Linked DNA regions of Homo sapiens: region 2 is linked to region 1. The links come from fine-mapping of genetic effects on gene expression. A gene starts in region 1. The other region holds a variant in brackets. All regions are shown on one strand. Distances are between the middles of the regions.

Region 1 (2,500 bases):
TGTCCCAGGCAGGCAGTGGTGTGGGGGAGGGACTCAGACCAGAGAAAAGAAGAGAGGCTGCAGGGAAGAAGCTTCAAGGGGAATCCTCCCCCTGCCCTCCCTTACCATGCCACATCAAAGCGGAAGCCCAAATCAAAAATGGTGTAGCAGACTCCTGCAGCAGTGAGGGAGAAAAAGGGGGTTACGGGCTGCTCGGTAGAGAGAAGTTCTTCAACCTAAAGTAGCTGCCGAGCTGAAGGGCCACCTCCCTGAAGGGGCGTCCTCAGGCTGCCCCCAGGTGACAGTACAGCTGTGTAGACAGATTCCTCTGCTTAGGCCTCCATTTTCTGCCATTCCCTCGCTAAAACCACCTCCCAGACCAAGCACCTGCGCAGGCAGGGTCGCCACCCGCAAGCCCGAATCCGAGGCGGGACCGAGGGAGCAAGCGCTCCAGCCAGATCCCGCCGGCCCAGTCCGTTCCGCTGTTTACCCAACAAGCTGTGGGTGGGGGAGGGCAAAGCGACTGGGAAAAGAGGAACCGGAGCAGCCGGCTTGTGACCGAGCGGGCCGGTCAGGAGCAAGAAAGGGGGGACAGCAGTGAGACGTGGGAGCGAGGGGAGACAGCGATAGTGGCAGGACGGGGGAGTGCTGCCCTCGCGGCCCCTACCCGCCCGCACCCCTCCTCAAGCAGCTGGAAATCCGGGTCTCCTTTGTCGGAGTCAGAGGCCCTCGCAGGCGCAAGTCCCCAGAGCCTCGGGTGCAGAGCGCGCGGGGGGCCAGTATTCCCCGCAGGCCACTTCCCCGCCGAGTTCCGACCCGGCCAGCTCGGCCGCGATGCTGCTCCCGCCCGCCAGGACCCGGCCTCACCCACGGCCAGCGCGCAGGCCCAGAAGGCCACGAAGACCCCGGAGTAGAGCAGTGCTAGCCCCGTCATGGCGGCGACGGCGGCGGGGGTCGGAACGGCGGGGCCGGAGCTACAAACGCGTCCCAGCGTCCACCGTCCGTCCCGCAGTCTGTCCGCCCGCCCCGCAGCGTCACCTAACTCGCCCACGTGATGCGCCGGTACCACGTGACCCCACGCCGGTTCCCCGCGCAGCGCCGCCGCCCGTCTAGAGCAAGGCGACGCTGGAACCGCAGGCGCTGGGGATTGTGGTAGTTGTAGTCACGCGTCTCGGCGGAGGCTTGGGCGCCCTCCTCTCTAGGAACTTCGACATCTGGCCGGTCCTTCTCGAGTCTCTCCACCTCGCCCTGCCAGCCCTGTTTTATTCCCGAGCCTGCTCGCGGGCCCCTAAGGCGTCCTCTCTGGCAGCCGTGCGTCCTAGCCTGTGGCGGGTGGCGCCGCGCGTGCCCTCTGCCTCACCTTGCTCACGGCGTCTCTCCGCCCCAGTGCGCCTGTTGGCGCTCGCTCCGCTGCCTGGCTAACACCTGCTGTCCTCCGAAATCGTCCTTCCGGCAAGCCTTCCCTAACCCAGTGGCAGGGAAGCGCGTTTGCTGGGCTCCCGCGATGTCCTGGTGATGCTTATTAAGCTTCAGTAAGATGTCACTACCCTGTCGAAATGCCCTGATGGCTCCCATTTCATTCAGGAGAAAAGCCAAAGTTCTCACAATAGCCTGCTAGGCTCCCCACGCCCCTCAGCTGACTTCACCTTCTAATATTCCCCCACTAACTCCCTCCTCTGGCTGCACTGCCCTCCTTGCTATTTCTTTGAACGTGCCAACCATACCGCGACCTCACTGCCCTTGCACTTGCTCTCTCTGCTTCTCCTAACTATACATGCGGCTCATCCTGTAACTTCCTTTCAGTTTTTGCTCACCTTCTTGAAAAGGCCTTCTCTGACCATTCTGTTTAATATTCCACCCCACTTAAACGCTCCTCTGCTTCCCAGCTTTACATTTCTCACGGTACTTACTGATCACCATTTGGCATACTAAGTATTTTATTTGTCCAACTCCCCTGGAAGAGTGGAAGCACCATGGCTTTTGTGTCGCTCACTGCTGTATTTCCAGTACCTGGCACAGAGTGTGTCCTCAGTACATATTTGTAGAACACATGACTGATGCCCACTTTGTCTGGGTTACCTTGTTAGCTTACAGCTCTGCCTCCACCATTAGACTAGGCATTCCCTGAGGGCAGGGACCACATCTCCTTTGTTCACCTTCAATACCCTCGACAATGCCACTGTGACCAGATTCTCAACAAATGTGGGGAAGAAGAGGCGAGTCTTTTCATTTCACCCCTCTCCACCTTTAGGGCCCAGCAACCCCACTTGCTTGAAGCATCCGCCATGTTGGTTCATGTTTAAGCCCAAAGGTCTTTTTCACTCCTTTTCTCCTGACAATTATTTTTTCCTCCAAAAGATCCAGCATAGGTGTTATGCCCTCTGGGAAGCCTCCTCTTAGTCCTTGTCAGGTATCTCCTGTGGGATCCAGCTGTCCCTGGGGCTTCCCTCCTCCCAGATAGAGCTGTTTCACTGTGTACTGACTGCGTATTTAACTCTCTTTCCAGGTACACTGGAAAGGA
Region 2 (3,012 bases), 33 kb after region 1:
CTCATTATCTCACCACTCCCCTGGCTTCAAGCTGTGACTCCTTGGATTTCTCCAGCCCAGACTGTCCTGGGTTTCAAACCTGCATATTTAGCTGCCTCCTGGCCCTCTGAAGTTGCCACAGGCACCCAAAGTTGAACATGTACAAAACTGAACTCACATTTTCCCCACATCTTACCCCTATCACATGCTAAAATACTACATCCCCTGTGTTCTGTACCAGTCCCCCAAGCTAGACACCTGGAAACCATCTCTCATCCAGCCCTCACCTCTCTTATTGTCCCTCACATCTCTTCTGTCCTTGCACATTTGCTTCTGCCCTAACTCAAGGTACCTGTGCTTGTTGCCTGAACGGCTCTAACTATGGCAGCTCTAGCTGGCACCCACCTTGCCTCTTCCATCCATACTAGACACAGTAGCAAGTGATCCATCTGAAACACATCTCTAACCAAGCCCACTTAAAACCCTTTAGTGGCTCCTTTCAGAGCGAAGGCTGAGCTTCTCGGTATAACATTCAAAGCCCTTTGTGACCTCTCCAGTCTTTTGTCTTGATGAGGACCCTCCCCAAGTCCACCTGAAGTTGCTGGCAATCCTGGGAGCGCACCAGGCTGTTTCACACTTCCCTGTCTTTGTTCATGCTACTTCCTCTGTTGAGAAGGCTCTGTGTCATTCTGGATGCCATCAGGAGAGAGACATCACACAGTCAGCAGGCAGGGAAAGTTCAACATAAGCATTTTGAAGTGTAACAGGGAATTGAAGCTGTGATGAACTGGCTAGTAAGAAGTAAATAAATAAATAAATAAACAAATAAAAATCTAAAGAATATAGGACTAGCAGAGTCTTCAGGCTGAGATGGAGAGCCCAAGGAAGAGGCCCTCACCTCTCCACTCCATTCCTGTCCAGGGCTGAGAACCACACCGTGCAGGACAGGACATGGCCACAATGAACAGTGTACATTTAGAAGTGAGAGGAAATAAAGGCAATCAGCAATAACCAGTTCGGGTTCCATGCCTCTCATCCACCCTATAATCCACCCTGTGCAAACAAACTCATTTTTCAAGACTCAGTTCAAATACCACCTTTTCCACAAAGACTTTTCCTCTTCTGCGTCTATCCAGGAAAAAACTGATTCCTCTTCCTTTGTGATTGTAGAATCTGCCCCCTCCTTGACACACATACCTATAACCTCAGTCATACTTCTACTGGGGTACTTGTTTACCCCTACCTAGGGTTGCCAGAAAAAAATCAGGACACTTATTTATTTTTTTTTTTTTTGAGATGGAGTCTTGCTCTGTCACCCAGGCTAGAGTTCAGTGTCACGGCTCACTGCAACCTCTGCCTCCCAGGTTCAAGCAATTCTTCTGCCTCCTGAGTAACTGGGACTACAGGTGTGCACCACCATCCCCGGCTAATTTTGTATTTTTAGTAGAGACAGGGTTTCACCATATTGGCCAGGCTGGTCTCAAACTCTTGACCTCGTGATCCGCCCACCTCGGCCTCCCAAAGTGCTGGGATTACAGGCATGAGCCACCGCACCTGGCCATCTATTTAATTTTGAATATGAGATAAACAACAATTTTTTTTTTTTTGAGATGGAGTCTCACTCTGTCGCCTAGGCTGGAGTGCAGTGGCACGATCTCA[G/T]CTCACTGCAAGCTCTGCCTCCCAGGTTCACACCATTCTCCTGAGTAGCTGGGACTACAGGCGCCCACCACCACGCCCAGCTAATTTTTTGTATTTTTAGTAGAGACAGGGTTTCACCATGTTAGCCAGGATGGTCTCGATCTTCTGACCTCGTGATCTGCCCTCCTCGGCCTCCTAAAGTGCTGGGATTACAGGCGTGAGCCACTGCTCCCAGCCTTTTTTTTTTTTTTTTTTTTTTTTTGAGATAGAGTCTTATTCTGTCACCCAGGTTGGAGTGCAGTGGTACGATTTTGGGCTCAAGCAATCCTTCCACCTCAGCCTCCCAAGTAGCTGGACCACAGATGCACGTCACCACACCTGGCTAAGTTTTTGTATTTTTGGTAGAGACAGGGTTTCACTATGTTGCCCAGGCTGGTCTTGAATTCCTGAGCGCTAGCGATCCACCTGTTTCAGCCTCCCAAAGTGCTGGGATTACAGGGGTGAGCCACCACGCCCAGCCAATTTTTTTGTATAAGTATGTCTCAATTATTGCATTGGACATACTGAAAACAAGTATTTAGGCCAGGCATGGTGACTCGCACCTGTAATCCGAGCACTTTGGGAGGCCAATGTGGGAGGATCTCTTGAACTCAGGAGTTCGAGACCAGCCTGGGTAACATAGCAAGAGCCCATCTCTACCAAAAAAATAAAAATTAAAAAAATTTAAAAATTAGCCAGTCGTGGTAGAATGCACCTGTAGTCTTAGCTAGTTAGGAGGCTAAGGTGAGAGGATCGCTTGAGCCCAGGAGGTGGAGGTTGCAGTGAACTGAGATCACACCACTGCACTCCAGCCCGAGGGACACAGCAAGACCCTATCTAAAAAAAAAAAAGGTGTATTTATTGTTTACCTTAAATCCATTTTTTTTTTTGAGACAGAGTCTCACTTTGTCGCCAGGCTAGAGTGCAGTGGCACAATCTTGGCTCACTGCAACCTCTGCCTCCCGGGTTCAAGCGATTCTCCTGCCTCAGCCTCCCAAGTAGCTGGGACTACAGGTGCGTGCCACCACGCCCAGCTAATTTTTATATTTTTAGTAGAGACCGGGTTTTACCATGTTGGCTAGGGTGGTCTCACTCTCTTGACCTCATGATCCGCCCACCTCAGCCTCCCAAAGTGCTGGGATTACAGGCATGAGTCACCACGCAGGGCCTGAAATCCAAATTTAACAGGATGTCTTTTACTTTTATTTGCTACCCTACCCCTACTTCCATCTCCAAGTATAGTTTCCTTGATGGCAAAACATGTTTCTCACTGGTCTCTGAATCCCTGAAACTAGCCCAGTGCACGACAGTTCATGCTCGGTTAATATGAAGAGAAGGCAACTTATCTGGCTGCAG

Alleles and levels. Alleles are on the strand shown, and positions count from the first base shown. SD is a standard deviation of normalised expression in the study named.
With allele G in place of T in region 2, the expression in tibial nerve of the gene that starts at base 994 in region 1 is lower (large effect, 1.1 SD a copy in GTEx).

Evidence for each region.
Region 2: its variant is fine-mapped to the expression of ATP6V0B in tibial nerve (GTEx, PIP above 0.99). The same link has a PIP of 0.9 or more in cerebellar hemisphere, cerebellum, cerebral cortex, gastroesophageal junction, ileum and prefrontal cortex.

What each region holds. Positions count from the first base shown.
Region 1 is chr1:43,973,454-43,975,953 of GRCh38, reverse strand. ATP6V0B (ATPase H+ transporting V0 subunit b) reads right to left here and starts at 994. Exons shown (of 8, transcript NM_004047.5): 1 at 847-994; 2 at 106-154. The coding sequence starts at 913. It overlaps LOC124904167 (a long non-coding RNA gene), which reads left to right and starts at 1,089. Exons shown (of 2, transcript XR_007066053.1): 1 at 1,089-1,511; 2 at 2,067-2,500. RefSeq lists silencers at 456-505, 906-955 and enhancers at 175-1,007, 1,206-1,255, 1,306-1,425, 1,008-1,841.
Region 2 is chr1:43,940,277-43,943,288 of GRCh38, reverse strand. It overlaps LINC02918 (long intergenic non-protein coding RNA 2918), which reads left to right and starts at 2,748. Exons shown (of 2, transcript XR_947283.2): 1 at 2,748-3,012. The variant G/T (reference allele first, on the strand shown) is at 1,639.